Regions from separate parts of the Homo sapiens genome. Here region 1 is linked to region 2. The links come from fine-mapping of genetic effects on gene expression. A gene starts in region 2. The other region holds a variant in brackets. All regions are shown on one strand. Distances are from middle to middle.

Region 1 (9,347 bases), 22 kb before region 2:
CTCTGCAATGCTACAGAGACTGCTGATAACTACAAATAAATTATGAGGAAAAGAAATGAAAGGGAACGTGAAGAGTATAAGAGATTTATTTTATTTTTAACCTTTAAGTTCAGAGGTACATGTATAGGTTTGTTACGTAGGTAAACTCATGTCACAGGAGTTTGTTGTACAGATTATTTCATCATCCAGGTAGTAAAAAGAGATTTAAAAGACATGAAAAAAAATTATGAATAAGTTATACTGAAGTGGCTAGGTTTCTGTCTTAGTCTGTTTTGTGTTGCTATAAATAATACCTGAGGCTGCATAATTTATAAAGAAAAGAGGTTTATCTGACTCATAATTCTGCTGTCTAGAAGGTTCAAGATTGGGCATCTGATGTGGGCCTCAGGCCGCTTCCATTTATGCCAGGTGAAGGGGAGCTGGGGTGTGCAGAAATCACATGGTCAGAGAGGAGGCAAGAGAGGGTGCAGGGGAGTGCCATCCTCTCTTTAACAATCAGCACTCAGGGGAACTAATAGAGTATAAACTCACTCACCCCTGAGGGAGGGAATTGATCTATTCATGAGGGACCCATACCCATGACCCAAACACCTCCCATGAGGCCCCACCTACAGCACCAGGGATCACGTTTCAACATGCAGTTTGGATGGGGCAAATATCCAAACTACAGCATTATACACCCCTGGGTAATAAAACTACAAAGAAACACAATATATAATAAAAAGTCAAGATAGTGTTTAGTACTGGGGTTGAGATTTTGATGAGGACTCCTGGAAGAAGCAACTGCAGTCGTAAAGTTCTGTTTCTTGCGATAAGTGGTGCTAACAAGAGTGTTTGCCTTTATAATAACCCATTAAATTATATATTCATGTTATGTATTTTTTGTATATGTGATTTACCTTACAATGAAATTATGAAAAAGGTAAAATAACTGAAGTTATTTCAATAAGCTGTATTCCCTTTTTCTTTAAAATGTTTCTCTTACATTTTAAAGTTTATGTGTATGTCATAAACTTGCTTGATTAGTGCCAAGTCTATAGAAAATATTGTCTCAGGTGGAAGTAATTCCACCAACCTTTTTCTTAAATATTTCTACAGGAGGAACTGAAAATAAGTAACCTTGCATTTTCTTTATTGTTGGATGAAGAATTAAGCTCTAGAGAAAAATTCCTGAACAACTACCTTACAAGGAAACAGCACGAGAAAGTAAGAATAGTGTCTGAAATCTGAATACAAGCATTTTCTGATAGACATGCCCCTCATTTAGCAAGAGCTCACGTGTCTAGACCCTTCCTTCCTTCCTTGCACCATTCCTACATAACCATGTGCATCCCTTGGCTCCCTGTCTGGAACTTTGCTCCAGGGCCAGGTGAAAGTAACCATTCCAATCTGTTAATAAAGTTAGGTGATTCTGCATCTGCAATCATTTAGCCAAAAGAACTGTGTAGCTTTCATATGACATGGTTTATAAAATGAGGCCATATAGCTTCATGGTTGAAAGCACTGGCTGTGGGACCTAGGACAAGGCATATAACCTTTTAAGCTATTTGCAAGCTCTTACCTAGGGAATGTTTTTCTCTCTGGACACGCTAAGATTTACTAAGATGTAAGCAATGGGCTTGCGTATAGAATGAAAAACTGCCGTATTATGAAAAACTCTAAATATGAGCTTGGATAGATATGGTTCATTAAAAAGACAATGAATACAAAATGTTTATCACATAATGTTTCTACAAATGTCAGCTTTTGTTAGTAGTATTAGTAAAGAGCATTTATGAATGTGTGACTTAAAAATGACATGAACTTTTTTCTAAGAGCCTATTAAACAGCATATGCAAAGCTTCTTCTAAATACAACTTTACATATAGCAACCCTGCAGCATACTAGATTTCTTTCACAGATGAGGATACCATCTCAGAGAGTCTGGGTAGCATGCCTAAGTCAGCCACTAGTGTGTAATAGAGCAGCAGCTGGAACTGTGGGAATAAGTGAAGAACATCCAAATGCAAATGAGCAGATGCTGTTTATTCAGAGCTTGGCACAGCAAGGGACTCATCCACCATCAGTTACTTTTGGCAGACTCAAAGGCAGGAAAGGAGTAGGAAAGCTTTATAGTGCAAAGAAGAGAGGGCTTCAGATGCAACATCATTGGAAGTTGTTGGCATGAGGAAGCTAGAGGCAAACCAATTAGAAGCGGGACAACTCATTTTACTGGTTTAGGGAACATATTTGGCTTTCTCTGGATGGTCCTAGGTTGGAAATGGGGACAAAATTATAGAAGCTGGTGGTAATGATCAAGCCCTGAAAGTTTGAGGCCAATCCTTAAAAAGGCTGTGGTTTAGTTTCCCAGCTGATGATTGTAGAGGTTGTGGGTCAGAATTCTGTTGTTACATATGGTCTGGCCCTTGTTTGCATGTATATCCAGTCTCTCAGAACCCAGGTCCATGTGATTCCGAAGCCTGTGCACTTTCATCCTCCACACTGACTTACCAAGAATGCAGTGTGCTCCATAGACACTCACACACTCATACACAGAGTTGGCTGTACTTAGAAACAGGTGATTGGGTGTTCTTTCAAAGTCCCCAATTGGTGTATTTTCTTCTATAAATCTTATCTTCATGAATAAATACTTCACAGACATATTTCTCTTGTACTAGGAAATTCCTTGCTCTTTTTAGTATCCCCAATATTTTTGTTTATGCTGGAAAGTCTCCAGTTTCAATCAACTATTCCTGATGCTGTTATAGAGCCAGACTTCAGAAGCTGTTCGGAAATCTAGAGAAGACCTGGATGTGTGCAAGGAGCACTATGACAACTTACTGGCAGAAGACAAAGTGAGAGTTGTTGTCTTACCCACTCAACAATGCAGTAGAGTTGTTGCTGCCTGGATTGGAGGAAGGTTAAAGGGGATATAATATAATTTTCTCACAGATTTTTCTCCCACTTAATTCTCAGCTATGGGTGAACTTCATTCTATGCCATTGTATATTTTTGAAAATCCATGTGTAAAATGAATTTTTATAAGCTTCTCTGGTTTAAGCTTTCTGTTATACAAAATACAGGGAAATCATCTAGCCTTTAAGGCTTTTCAAACTTTAGGTTGCAGACCCCATTACTTGGCCATGAAATCAATTTAGTAGGTTATGACCAGCAGTTTTATAATGGAAAAGAATAGGATAGAATAGCATAAAGAAGACAGATGGAACAGAATGGAATAGAAAAGAAAAGAATAGAGTAACATTCATGTTTTTTGGGTAAATATATTTTGGGACACTTCTTTGGGAAACTTCTGGATGATTTCTAAGACCTGTTATATGAAATAATATTTTTAATACACTTAGATGCTTCTTATCAAAACAAATCTTTGAGACATCATTGCACAGAGAATGGTTAATGTCTAACAACTTTGTAAATCAAGGTTTCATGCATTTTTAAAACCAAAGTGCTACCACCTGTATTTTGAAGAGTATTGTCAACAAATAAAAGGTTTCCAAACCAAGTTGCAGTCCTCAAATGTCATGTTTGTCCTTAGGTTATGGATCGCAGCTTTAAAAAGGAATTTTCTGAAATTCCTGGTCATCAAGTGGATATACTCTACAAACTTTTTAAACGCCGACCAAGGTTTGTTTCTCCTTCACTATTGTGTTTCTGAGAAAAAAGTTTGCAAATAAAGAGGAGTGTTACTAGATTTCAGCTTTTTTCTCCCAATTAAATGGAATTATTCAGTGTAATATCTTTTAGGTGGAGATGTTTAAGGGTTTTGATCCTAATTCAGTATTTTTTGAGATTATGTCTATATCTTAAGGTAGAGAATAATGATTTATTTTCATTATTTAAAAATAGTTAAGGATCTGTGTAAGCACGGTACTATTGTAGATTCTGCTTTGTACATTAAGGAAGTTCCTCTTACATCATAGATGGCACACAGATTTAAAAACAGTTTTTTCTAAAGTGCGTTCAAACAAACACAAGTTCCCTGATGTATAAATCGGAACTACTTGTAATAGGCTTCCAGGACTAACTAAGTTTGGGGAAAATACTGGGTTAAAAAAAGGAAGTTAAGCAGCTTTTCTTTTACTGCAGAATGTATTATTGGCCTTTGGATCTCCAAGTGTAAGAAACAGAGTAAGCAGCGTTTTCCAAACTTATTTGACCACAAATTGCTTTTCCTCAGAGTATCTCATGTGCTTGTGCCTAAAGTTTGAAAGATGCCAGTATAAATGG[T/C]AGAAAATAACCATTTGAAAAGAGTTCTAAGAAAGTATCACTGATTTCCACCATTATAAATGCAGATTTCCAGTTTTCAATCAAATGTAATCTAGAAATCAAGGAGTTTGTCACAAAGATGTAGTCAGCTAGTTTGTGTTTGAGATACAAACTCTGACAGGTTATAGGCAACCTAGGGAATTTAACCTAGAACATGCCTCTTGTTTTGGTTTTCCTTTTTTTTTGAGACGGAGTCTCTGTCTGTCACCCAGGCTGGAGTGCAGTGGCACGATCTCTGCTCACTGCAACCTCCGCCTCCCGGGTTCAAGCGTTTCTCCTGCCTCAGCCTGCCAAGTAGCTGGGACTACAGGCACATGCCACCACGCCCAGCTAATTTTTGTATTTTTAGTAGAGACGGAGTTTCACCATGTTGAGCAGGATGATCTCGATCTCCTGACCTCGTGATCCACCCATCTCAACCTCCCAAAGTGTTGGGATTATAGGTGTGAGCCATCTCGCCCGGCGGTTTTCCTATTTTTAAAAGAGTGAGTGATAATTAGCCCAATTACATACCTTCTCCTTGTGGAAAAAGAAGTGAGACCTCCCGCAGCAGTGGGAAAAGCACAAGCTTTCTTGTCAAACAGAATCAACTTTAAATCCTAACTTCAACACCTGTCAGACTGATAGCCTTGGGCCATGAGCTTCTCTCCCAGGCTGACTTTCCTCATCTAGAGAATGGGGATGATAATATAGTTTCAACCTCACAGTGTACTGTAAAGCATCTTGATAGTGAGTGCCTCGCCCAAATCTTTGTACCCTTCTTCCCTTTCCAGCTGAAGCACAGGGAAATGAAACTAATCTATTAATGTAGATAAAAACAGAATTGGCCAGGTGGTGGCTCACCACTGTACTCCCAACACTTTGGGAGGCTGAGGTGAAACGATGGGTTGATTTATTTGCCTGCTTACAGTATACAGAAAGGAAATGTGTCCTAGCACAGACACAATTGTCTGTCAGTGCTGACAATAGTTGGAGACATCTGTAGTCTAGCCAAGGTCACGTCTGAGAACCTGGAGAGTATGGAAGAAGGGCAAAGTGGATCCCTTTATCTGTGGAATAACCCACCTACCAGCCATCACATGGCAAAGGGAAGAGCCATACAATGTGTTATGCCTGTGCTAAGGGCCTAATTGTTTCACATTGATGTTTTTATGAGAATGTGAAATGTTGATGGGCTTTTCTTGGTAATACCAGGATTTCCAAACAGAAAACGCACTCAGAAACAACCAGCGTTGTCCCTTTCGGAGAACTACCAGGATCTGGCAAGTTGAATAAGGATGCCTTTGCCCAGTTAATGAAAGCTATGGATGAGTTGGACAATATTAGTAACATGCCAGAAGGCTTGGACCCTTTGGTCTGGAATCATTTCTGCATGACAAGACGAGCAAAAGTGGAAAATGAACAGAAAGTATATACTATTTTAACTTAATTTAATTTTTAGTGTACTAATATCAAATACATAGTTTACATTGGTCAGTGTAACCAAAAAAGCTAATTATTTAGGTTTCCCTGCTAGGGTAGTATTTGGTCATAGTAATAAGATAATGAAATACTATATTAACCCTGGTGCTATTGAAGGCTAAGTGTAGGCCTGTTGCTTTTAGACTGGTGCCGTTCAAAATAGTGTCCATTAGCCACAAGTGGTTATTATGCATTTGAAATAAATATTGCCAGTCCTAACTGAGATGTGCTGTAAGTGGAAAACATACACATTAGAAGGCTTAGTATGAACAAAAAGAAATATGTCTCATTAATATTTTTATATTGATTATAGGTTGAAGTGATAATATTCTGGATACATTTAATTAAAATATATTAGTAAAATTAAGTTCATTTCTTTGATTTCACTTTTTATAATGCGGCTACTACAGAATTTAAAATTACATATGTGACTCACATTTATGGCTCACGTTATATTTTTCTTGGACAGCACTGTTGTAGGTTATCTCATTTTGCATAGATTAGAATTATATTTGGCTCAGCAGAACCAACTTTATAGTTTTGCTAGAATGTGGCAACGAGTAAAAATTTAAGAGGGTCTTTATTTGGGAAGAGAATCCTTCCTCTTGTTGCTTCTTGACCACTACCCCAAATTCCCTAAATTTAATGCCCACATGCATCAGGCTGGCATATTTTTGTTAAAGTACCTAGGATTCTATAATTTCACTTAAAGTGATGAGAACAAATTTTAAAAATAAGATATAAAAGAATTTATAGTTGCCTGCATACTTGATTTTCACCAAGAAGCAAATTTGATACTTTCAAATCGTTCAAATTGTTACATACCATGTAAGTTTTAGACATTTAAATTTAAATGTTTTATTACTTTCTTCGAAAGATAGACCTGTTAAGGTTTTTAAATTTAAAAAGTTAAAAGATGTATGTTGTCTAAAATTGAAGCTCCATATGTTCTGACATGTTTCTGGCTTGGTTTCTTTAGGTAAAGCAGAAAGCAGCTGACTTATTGGAAATGGCAACTTTCCTCCAGAAGAGAGTTGAGGAGGAAGAGAAGGTGCAACAGGAGATTGAGAGAGTGTTCCATGAACTCATCCTGTAATTTGAAGCTTTCTTTCATGTTCACCTATTCAAAGTCTAATTAGGGCTAAATCAGGTTGTGTTATCACTGGGGAGAATGCCTACTGACTGCTTTACAGCCATCTCCCTTCCAGCACTGTGCTTTAAAATTTCTATTTTAAAAAGCCTGCTTTGTTACATAGACCTTGATTCAGGATGGAACTTTCCCACGTTTTGTTGCTCTTATTACAAATAAGCAAGTTTCAGAAAAATCTTAGTATTGTTTTAAGTCGGCCCCTTCCACATAAAAATACAAAGAACCTGTTTTTCAGTACTTTGGGGCTCAAGGCATATAAGCTAACCATGTGGAAAATTAAGCAGATGTCTAAGAACTTTCCATGTAGACACGCAGCCAACTGATATATTTTTCTTTAGGGGAACTTGTTGTTTACTAAGTGATTAAGATATTTAAGTCCTTGCTTCATTTTTTGGCTATATTTATAGCCTCATCGATAAATACTTCTCTGATGTTCCCAAATTCATTGAGAACACATCATTTTTAGATCTAGGCTATAGCGAGGATATGAATTACCCAGAAATAGATTTGTTAAGTAACTTACATATTAAATATTGTTAGTATAGTATCAGAAATCAATAAATAAGTTCAGAATTTTAATAGAGTTATTTTATTTATTTATTTATTTATTTTGAAATGGAGCCTCACTCTGTCACACAAGCTGGAGTGCAGTGGCACGATCTGGGCTCACTGCAGTCTCCACCTCCCAGGTTCAAGAGATCTCATGCCTCAGCCTCCCAAGCAGCTGGGATTACAGGTGCCTGTCACCACCCCTGGCTAATTTTTGTATTGTTAGTAGAGATGGGGTTTCGCCATGTTGGCCAGGCTAGTCTCGAACTCCTGACCTCAGATGATCCACCCACCTCGGCATCCCAAAATGCTGGGATTACAGGCATGAGCCACTGCGCCTGGCCAGATTTGTTATTTAAAAGTGTCTCTATTTTCTTCATTTTTACTTTACTTTTATTACCGTCAAAATTATACAATCTTTTCTTAATCCTAAAGTAAAAATCTATAAATGTATTTCTGTCCATACCATTTTTTGAGCAACCCAGGTATAATTCTGCATCAATAGGAAGAGGTTTCAGAGAGACCTCTAGGAAAGCTCATCATCAGGAAAATATTCTCCACACTAATCTCCAGCATGTTTTCCTTAAGCTGATTCGATTTTTATATTCTCAGATAATAGGTGAAATTTGAAATATATTACAACTACTTGCTTTGAAGTACTTTTCAATTCAGATTACAGGAAGAGAAAGTGAGATTCCAGTTGAATTTGACAATCCAAATTCTTCTTAAACAAGGACAAGTAGAACTGGAAAATTTCCAGCTAGTACTGGAGTATTCTGATGCAATTCTCATCAACAAGAACATAATTGAAGACTTGAATTCTGTGATTCGGGTAATTATACTTTTTATTTTTATTTTAATTCAAGGTCTTGCTTTGTTACTCAGGCTAGAGTCTTGTGGCACAATCATGGCTCACTGCAGCCTTAACCCTTAGCTAGGCTCAATAGATCCTCCCACCTTCACCTCCCAAGTAGCTGGGAGTACAGGTTCACACCACCACACCCAGCTAATTGTTTTAAAATTAGTTTTTTGTAAAAACAGAGTCTTAATATGTTGCCCAGGCTGTTCTCAAACTCCTGAGCTCAAGTGATCCTCCTGCTCTGGCCTCCCAGAGTGCTGGAATTAACAGGCAGGAGCCACTGCACCTGGCCAATTATACTTGTTTAAAGACAAAACATATTGCCTGCTGTACCAAATATTTTACATTATTCTCCCATTTTCATAAGTAATTTTAATTCAATTAAGTCAGTGGTTTCCTAACTGTGGTTGCACATTAGAATCATTTGAAGAACTTTATAAATGTGCTCAGACCCCACCCCCAGGATGAGTATTTTTTAAAAGCTCCCTCCATAATTCTAAGGTTCAAGAAGGATCACAGAGCTAAATGTCCATTCTAGTATGCCATCGTTTTTTTAGGCCCAGCCTACTCAGGCAAAGATAATCTTAGATAAGCTTAGTTAGTTGATTTCAGACCTTACTTCTTTTCTAATATGAACATTTAATGTTATTTCTGTATAAGCTTTAGGTATAATTGAGTCCTAAAAAAATATTCCCTATAAGCTTTATTTTATCTGTATTCTACAAATTTTAATATTTTGTGTTTTAATTTTCTTTTACATATTTTCTAATTTCTGTTGTGACTTCCTATTTGATTCATGGGTTATTTAAAAGCGTGTTATTTAATTTCTAAATATTTGCGGATTTTGTGCTATTTGGGAATTAGATGATAATGCTACTGTACATTTTATTTTTACAAATGCTATAAACACAAAACATATTGCTATTATTTTTTGCTTTAGACAATTATCTTTTAGAATAATAAAAATGTGAAAAGAGGTATTTTCTATTTACCTTAATTTTCACTATTTCAAAAGATCTTTATTTCATTGTGTAGATCCAAATTTCCATCTTGTATCATTTACCT
Region 2 (9,129 bases):
GGATGTACTTGAGGGGGGTTCAGAGGAGTGCTAAACTAGTAGGGAAGTGCTTTTGAAAAAGCTAAGTAAAGCTGTTTTAACACTTAAAAGGACCCAAAAGCAGAAATCCAGAAAGCTCTTAAGAATGACTAGCAACTAAAACCAGGAAGCCACTGATCCATAAAATTCTCTCCTATCACCTCTGCCTTTCTCGGTAAGCACACTCACTGCCCTTAAGCATGTCAGCTCTGCTGCTTCCAGGTATATATACAACAGCTGCAGTCACAAAAAGAGATGGGCTTTCTTTTCCTGAGCTAAATTCCAAATTTTCAGAGACTGGCCCAGTTTGGGTCCTATCTCCATATATGGCCAAAATGATAGGTACAACTGTATAATTTGGCAGCAGAAACCCAACCTGTGGAGGTGGGTTCATAAATAGAATAACCAATCTAAATTTAACCCATTTCACAGATGAAGCTAGAAAGGCAAACAAATGCGAAGAACCTTATATGCCATGATACCTTCATGTGGGTGGGAGATAAGGAAATGTAGTTTTATAAGAAGTAGATGGTTTAGCCGGGTGTGGTGGCTCATGCCTGTAATCCCAGCACTTTGGGAGGCTGAGGCGGGCAGATCACCTGAAGTCAGGAGTTCAAGACCAGCCTAACCAACATGGAGAAACCCCGTCTCTACTAAAAATACAAAATTAGCCAGGGTGGTGGCTCATGCCTGTAATCCCAGCTACTCGGGAGGCTGAGGCAGTAGAATCACTTAAACCTCAGAGGCGGAAGTTGCGGTGAGCCAAGATCGTGCCATTGCACTCCAGCCTGGGCAACAAGAGCAAAACTCTGTCTCAAAAAAAAAAAGAAGAAGAAATAGATGGTTGTTTCACTAAATGATGAATATGCAAAACACATTTGAAGAGACAGGGAAGAATATGGTTTTGGACATATAAGTTTAATTACCTGCTAGACTATCAGATGGAAATATGTGGTAAATGGATGGAAACAAGGTACATAAACTTAGGAGGCAGAAATTTTTAAACTTTAGGGTTAGACATTCACCAGATTGGACAATTTTTAACATTTAAAATAAAACTTTTTGTCATAAAAAACAAATGTATTAAAACTAGTTTCCAGAACTGCCCAAATGACTTTTTAAACATGACTTAAATGTCGTTTTGACAAATCTATCCAAAATACTAATTTTCCTTTTAGAACTTAGTTTATAATTTATATATTAAAGTGCCCTTAATTGATATTCATTGGGATACCTTCCTCTGAGCCCTAATGGTTTTGGGAGGCCTAGGCGGTGGATCACCTGAGGTCAGGAGTTCGAGACCAGCCTGGCCAACGTGGTGAAACCCAGTCTCTACTAAAAATGCAAAAATTAGCCGGGCATGGTGGCGGGCGCCTGTAATCTCAGCTACTCGGGAGGCTGAGGCAGGAGAATTGCTGGAACCCGAGAGGCAGAGGTTGCAGTGAGTCAAGATCGCACCATCACACTCCAGCCAGGATGACAAGAGCGAAACTCAGTCTCAAAAAAAAAAAAAAAGTGCCTAAGTATCTTTTAATTAAGTTGTCATTCTCAAAGATATTCTGGAGCAAAAATCAGGAATTAAACATCTATAAATTCTTCTTCACTTCTGTTATAGTGTAGTAATTTATCATCTAACCCATAGTGGTCTATCAATTGAGTAAGGCTTAGTTTCTTGTTCTCTTCAGACACAGCTGACTGCAACTCATAAAGCAAGAGCTGGCTACAGCTTCTCCACTTCTTTATTAACAACTGTAACTGAGACAGATCATTCTGAAACAGAAAAAAAAACATGTATGTCAATAACTAGTCATGCTAGTTCAACTTAATTAAAGTTGTTAAATTAGTGGATGTGCAGGTTTAAAGGCTAACATACACAGGGATGAATGGGACTTCTATCTAGGAAAAAGTAGGATGGTCATATGTAGAATGGTTACAATGTCACTCAACTTGAGTTCTATGGCTATTTTGTTGGCTTAAGCTCTGGGCCATCTTTATGATAAGGGAAAAATCAAATCATTAAATAGGGCCAAAACTATGTCAAGAAGCAATAATACAGGGAAAAATCTACTGTATTACAACTGTACTTTTTAAAAAATGACACTATGCTTTCCACTAAATGTTGCTATGAACCTAAAACTGCTCTTTAAAATTACAATATTCAAGTTAAAAATATTTTTTTAGGCTGGGGATGGTGGCTCACACCTGGGATCCCAGCACCTTAGGAGGCCAAGGTGGGAGGACTGCTTGAGCCCAGGAGTTCAAGACTACACTGTGCAAAATAGCAAGACTCTATGTCTACAAAAAAATAATTTTAAAAAATTAGCCAGGTGTGATGGCACATGTCTGTAGTCCCAGCTACTAGGGAGGCTGAGTTGGGAGGATCACTTGAGCCCAGGAGTTCAAGGCTGCAATAAGCTATGACTGCACCACTGCCCTCCAGGCTGGGCAACAGAGACCATGTCTCTAAAAAAAGAATGAATAAATAAATAAAATATATTTTTTCAACATTCAATACTCCTAAATTTTATTTTTTAAAAACTCCAGAATTTCAAGAGAACAAATGAGATACACTATCCCATCACTTATTCCACGTAATTCAGGGAAAATGAGCTATTGCATATATATGAATTTTCCAGGTAATAAAGATTATTCTCCTTCCAAGTACCCAAGTTCTATTTAATTCAACCTATATGGGTTGAAATCTAAAATATAATATATATATATATATATTTTCTCAAATAAAATGGCTGAATCACATTAATTATTTGGGGGAGACACAAGATCATTACTAAAAATACCTTTTATTGTACTCTACAGCCCATTTTTAGTTTTACTAATTCACTGTCAGCTTTCACTTCTGTTCCCATTGTACTTGCATCTAACATTTAATACTTCTAATATTGCTGTGGGCTAGAAACTAGAGAGAAAAGTTTAACTGCATATTAAATCAGAGCTGAGATTCTTAAAAAGTTTTACCTGGTGTTTAAGGGCCTTTTCTACTCTAAATCTGGAGTTGAATTAAAGCTGTTGGAAGCCAGGTTTCTGAATATTTGGCTTATTGCTTATTATGGTAAAAAAAAAAATTCTATTTTTGAAATTACTTTCCTGTAATTTATGTAAAAATAAAAATTATGCAATGGTCCTGAAATTCTTCTCACCTTTGATCTATACATTTTGACTAGTTTTAGCCTCCGAAGAAGGTCTTCTTTCTCCTGAACCTGCTTCACCAATTTGGCTTTTTCAGCGTTTAATCTTTGTTTAGGAAGCTTCTCACTCACAAACTCATTTTGGAGAGCACTGCATGATCCAGAATCAAGTGACTGAGATTCACAGACATTGAGATTCTTCAAAGTATTTTTCAAATTTGTATTTTCTTCAAATTCACTGTCTATATGTTTAAAACTTTCTTGAAATTCCAAACAGTTTTCCTCTGTGGAAGATGCTGGTTTCTCTGAAAAGGTCTGATCATTTTCTTCACTCTCTACTTTAAGACGTTTCACCACATTGTAAGAGGAATTAAATGAAAATCTTGTTTTCCTTAATCTTTCTCTAAGTGTTGCACTCATAGGCTATAAAGAGCACAAAACATTAAAAATGTGAATCAAGAAAAACATTCTTAATGTCAATAAATCACCAGAAATAAAGTCCTTCCATTTCTATGCTAGACACCACTAGATGGCTTTCTGTCTCCACATCTAAAGAAGGCATCACAAAATGACTTTAATTTCTGGAAGCTCCATTTGTTTTATTTCCTTTTTACTTCAGCAAGATCAACACCTTTCCAAAAGTGTTGAGAAGTTTATCCCAGTAATCAAGGAACATTTGTTCAGTAACAAGCACATGCCTGATAGTACTCCAGGTGCTTCAGAATTACAGAGTAAGGAAAAGACCTAGACTCTGCCACTAAAGACCTTCATAATAATATTGCACAGATGCAAACTTTCTCCATCTGGAGTATTGTAATAACCTAATCTGAAACTAACTGAAATGAATTCATTCAAGAGGAAAATATGGAAGGGGGCTGGTGGGTGTCATATATGTCACCTTAGAAGAAAAACAAAATTATTTAATAAAATGTCTACTTATTTATGCTACACATTATGTTAATTAACAACCTTCCGTAGAATTTAAACCACCACTGCCACAATACTTAGAAACACATAATGGATCCACTGGAAGAACAAAGATTTTCATACTTGTTTTCGGGAACTATTTGTATAGGGAGATGATGGATTCGCAGAGGCCTGAGGAGTGCTAGGTAAAACCACAGCTGAGTCTGACGGACTTTCCATCTTGAAAGTGAAATCTTGGTTTTTCTCTAAAAAAGAAAAATTATAAAATAATCGAATTAACCACACCTCTCTATAGTCGACTTTTATCAAATAATATATTGTATTGGTGTACAAAGCATCCACAAGTAAGCCAGATATTTCTTCTAATTTCACTTTGTAATTCATTCTTGCTCTTTTTGCAGTTTTCCATTTACCTTCCCACATAGGGACCACTAAGTTTTTCATGATACATCAACCAGCTAGTATCTCATAGTCACAAGACTCTCCTTGTTTTCGTTTCATCCACCAAAATATATTCAAATTCTGCCTTGGAAGTAGGGAAGAATAACAGCTTTAGATAATCAGGAATTCTTTATTATGACAGCTTCATAATTCAAGAAGCTATAGCCGAAACCTTGACTCAAAAACAATAGGACCTGAATGTCACCCATCCTGAACTCTACAAGCTGTGACTAGAACCCGTTACCCTGCCGGCCCGAGGCATAAGAAACACAGCGGAGACGCATTTAAGCCCGTCTGTAGCCTTTTAGTTTAAGCGGCCAACAGGGACTGAAAAGGAGAGTGGACTGAAATTGCTTCCTCCGACAAAGGCATTAACTTTTGAGGGGTAAACTAGGGGCGGGAGTCGTCCCCTCCTTCCCCCCGTTGCAGAAAGCCCACTAGTTCCCCGGAGACCCCAGGCATAAGGTGAGGTTGAGTTCCCCAGACCCGGAAAGGGAGCTCAACTCGACTCCACAGCCGACTCCCGGGGAAGCCCAGGTGTCAGGGATCCCCCCTTCCCCTCAGCAGGGTACCTCCCTCCGCCATTCCCAGCGAGAGCAAAAAAGCGCGCGCACCTGCGGCCGTAAATCGATCCTGTGGCAGGGGCGGGGCCGTGCGGTAGGCGGAAAAGATGCGCAATTGGCCAGATTGCCTGACGCGCGAGGCGCCGCTTCACTCAGCGACTCAGAGCGGTGGGACTGCGCGCGCGCCTCCGCCAGCGGGTGGTTGGGGCGGGGCTTGGCCCACACGATGGGAGGCCCAGACGCATGATTGGCAGAATTAACCGGTGCGCGCGGCTCTCCCCGCCCAGCGCCCGAGAGCAGCGTGAGTGCGCGCGCGCGCGGCCGCGATCCGCAGCAGGTCTTCGGGGCGGGCGAGGCTGAGCTTCGGAATGTTAAACCAATCCTGAGGGGGGCGCGCTTCCGTTCGCGGCTTCTGTTGCCTTATTTTCAACCGCCTTCCCTTCAGGCTTCCTTGTTTTTGTGCGTCTGTGAAGTGCGCCTGAAAGTGCCTCTCCCCACCCCCGCCAGCCCGCCGCCTCCATTCTCTGGCTCCAGTCAGTCTCCTCTCCCTGCTAGTCACAGTGAAGGCTTTACTCAGACGTGGGGCGGCCAGAAGCCGCACGGCTGGCTGCATGTTAGATTTACAGCTTGTGGACTCCCCAGAGGCAGAGACCACAAAAGAACAGCGTTGGTTGGGTTCCAGCCTATTCCAGCGTGGTGGTTCCAGAGACCACAAAAGAACAGCGTTGGGTTCCAGCGTTGGGGTCCACATTTCAAACATGTTAGAAATCTATCCGAGAGTCCCGGCACTTTAGCTGAGCTCATCGCTAGCTTTTTTGGCTGCCGCAAACTCGGCGGTCCCGTCGCGAGGTTTTTTGTTGTTGTTGTAAACAAAAAACCGTTTCTGTACCTCAGTATGCAGGCTCCTTAGCGTGACCTCAAATCTTTTACTCAAATCTGAGGGAAAATGTAGCCCAAGGAAATTTGTTGTGGCGCAACACAGGAAGCAGAACAATCACTACATGAGATTGTGTCGGTCCAAAATTCACGTTTGAGACCGACAGGGCCCTTGCTGGCTACCGGGCAGCAGCATCCTCAGTCGAGAAAATCCCCCCCCCGCGCCCCGCTTCCAGTATGGCGAGGTTCTGTTGCTACGCGACGACAAAGTTAGCTACATTGGGTGGAGCACTGGGTTTAGTGAAAGAGTTGAGTAACTTCTGAGTCACGTGGAAGTTGGGAATTTCCAGGGGCCAGTGTTTTCAGTCCTCTTATTGAATGGCCATTTTAAACATTGATATCGTCTCTTTACTATTAATAACATCTGACAGTAGTGGCTTAGAAGTGGCCAAAAGGGAGTTACCTGAGTCTTAAGCAGTCAGGTATAATAATTACAGAACCTGAGGACTACCTAAGGGAATGATTAGGGGCGTACACGTTACAGTCAAATTGTCTAGGTTCAAATCCTGGCACCATACTTTATGTGCTTCTTAATGAGGTGATTCTGTGCCTCAGTTTCTTCACCTCTTAATATGGGATTGGAGAATTAAATGAGAACTGGTGAGAGGCAGCTGGAACAGAGCTAGGTATCTAGGAAGCACTCAGTAGTTATTTTATATATGCAAGTGTATTCACCATTCCCTAATGGATTTAAGGGAATGTATCACCTTCAGTTTCACCCCTTGATTTATCTCCCACCCCCCAAAAAAGCACATATATTTTAAAAAGATGCTGTGATCTGTAAGATCCCACACAATATAAACCATAAATAGCAGAAAATGTAGAGCCTCACATATGATTAATAATACATATTTCACTCCTAAAATTTTTTAAAATTACATAAGTTAACCCCAAGGAATTTACAAAGGGGAAGAGAGAACTCATGATTTTGTGATAAAGGTGTTACTCACCTCACCAAGCTGCAGGTCTCAGTCTGTACATTTATTTCTCCCTTTACTCATCCATTGGCATCAGTTAATCTCAAAGAAAAAGCAGAATGATTTGTCCTGACACTAGAAGCACAGTGCAGACTCTGCATATTCTTTATACCTCCCGGCATAAGGGCGAGTTGTTTTTATGAGTCTCTAAAATCAGCAGCTCCCAAATCCTTTTACCGTTACAACCTAAGCTTAGAGCTGTGTTTTTCCTGGCTGCAGAAAGGAAAACAACATTTTGCCTTGCAAATGTTCTGACTTGCTTATTATGTGAACTGGTATCTTAAAATGGGATTGTTTGGCCAGATTTTCAAAGAACTTCAGAACATATACTCAGAAAAACCCGTATTTCAGAAATGTGCATTTGTTGATCTACATCTCTGGCTTTCATGCATTATTAGAACTGAATTATCTCCCTGTACAGAAGTTTGTATTTTACTTAACCTTTTCACATAACAAACTGGAAATCCAGTTTCCTCTCGGCTTCATGTCAGAGATCTGGAATATAGCCCCCATACTTTTAATTGTACCTTTAGATAAAGCATAGCGTACATTTCAATGTCTTAAGTGACTTCAAATCTATTAGCCTGTGAAGACTTTGGTGTTTCTGACACAGGACATTGTATGTTTCGTATGAAACTTTTCAGGCAGGAAAAAATACTGGCCCAGTGAGCCAGGAAGCAAAGACTCCTTACCCTGCCATAGAGAACAATTTAAGCAGTAGACTCCAATAATAATAGTAATTAATATCAACTTAAGTCAGGCTTTCCTTGTGTTTTAAAATTTCTTCAATACCCAAGGCTACTGTTGGCTACTTTGTTACTCATCAGGGAGTGGTAAAATGCTTCGTTCTTGTCTGTAATTATTGTTGGTGGGATGATGATATAGACCTAAAATCTTTATGAGGTTTTACAAAAAAATTTTTTTTATTCTTATTCTTGTCTAATGGCAAGAAAAGAATAGTAAATAGTCTCTCAGTCTCTCTCTCTACCTATACAAAAAAGCACAAACACACGTACTTTTTAGCCATAATTAAAATGTTCATTTTAATTTTTAAATTCTCAGCTTTAGTATTATTTTTTAATCTTAACAATAGTCTCAAGCTAACTTAAATTATATTACCATAGACTTTTCTGTATTGACAAAAATTTTTGTGTCATGTAGACATAACTAGTATCCATAGGTTTTTTTTTAAAAGAAACGAATACATAGGCCGGGTGCAGTGGCTCACGCCTGTAATCCCAGCACTTTGGGAGGCCGAGGCGGGCTGATCACAAGGTCAGGAGTTCAAGACCAGCCTGGCCAATATGGTGAAATCCTGTCTCTACTAAAAATACAAAAATTAGCTGGGCGTGGTGGTGGGCGTCTGTAGTCTCAGCTACTTGGGAGACTCAGGCAGGAGAATCGCTTGAACCTGGGAGGCGGAGATTCGGAGATTGCAGTGAGCCGAGATCACACCGTTGCGCTCCAGCCTGGGCGACAGAGACTCCTTCTAAAAAAAAAAAAAAAAAGAAACAAAGATAAAAATATACGCTTCTGAAACTAGGATTAAAATCCACTTGGGTGAGGAATTGTGTAAAATCCACATGATTCTGTTGATTTATGATGTCCATTAGGACAAATTAAACAAACTAAATTTAATACAAATTTATAACACAAGAAAATCTGCCAAATTCTCTTAACTGACTTTCAACACTTCTTATGACATTTGTACATAAGTTGAAAATGCCCTTCAAAAACTCTTCTATGAGTTTCTCTTGCCATGAATTCAAGTCGCATCTTATAGACCCATCCATGGTAAAGTGATGTTTTAGTGCTGTGTAATTTCATAAATTTCTCTTTGAGAATAATTGACAAATATTTCTATTTTTTTCTCTATTACCTTAACGATCTCACATGGAATTCCATAATGTGTAATGGCTGCACTTGTAGAGACTTTGTTACCAAACATTGACCTTTATGATTTAACTATTTCATATTCTTTAGCCAAGATATGCAAGAGAGGGTTTTATTATCAACTTCAAGAGAAAAGGGCCCTTGACATAGCTGTTAGGCATGCCGGAGCGATTGCCTCACTGAGTAGGATGGTTACTTAGAACACGGAGATACGGAGAGGATCAGTAT

Which allele goes with the higher level. Alleles are on the strand shown, and positions count from the first base shown. SD is a standard deviation of normalised expression in the study named.
For the expression in monocytes after R848 of the gene that starts at base 5,130 in region 2, C is the high allele of the variant in region 1 and T is the other (large effect, 1.1 SD a copy in Quach 2016).

Evidence for each region. PIP is the estimated chance that this variant, and not a neighbour inherited with it, causes the effect. A credible set is the group of variants that fine-mapping cannot tell apart.
Region 1: its variant is the best candidate, but not a certain one, in a credible set for the expression of SFR1 in monocytes after R848 (Quach 2016, PIP 0.80).

Annotation. Positions count from the first base shown.
Region 1 is chr10:104,139,750-104,149,096 of GRCh38, reverse strand. CFAP43 (cilia and flagella associated protein 43) reads left to right here. Exons shown (of 38, transcript NM_025145.7): 29 at 1,099-1,206; 30 at 2,748-2,834; 31 at 3,533-3,621; 32 at 5,458-5,671; 33 at 6,704-6,816; 34 at 8,096-8,255. Among named protein-coding and RNA genes, the nearest start is that of SFR1, 22 kb to the right of the region's middle. RefSeq lists an enhancer at 1,775-2,306. The variant T/C (reference allele first, on the strand shown) is at 4,225.
Region 2 is chr10:104,118,172-104,127,300 of GRCh38, reverse strand. It overlaps SFR1 (SWI5 dependent homologous recombination repair protein 1), which reads right to left and starts at 5,130. Exons shown (of 4, transcript NM_001002759.2): 1 at 5,105-5,130; 2 at 4,215-4,336; 3 at 3,177-3,587; 4 at 918-1,788. The coding sequence starts at 5,117. The coding sequence ends at 1,597. RefSeq lists a silencer at 5,135-5,364 and enhancers at 5,605-5,654, 5,049-5,712, 6,285-6,384, 5,868-7,067.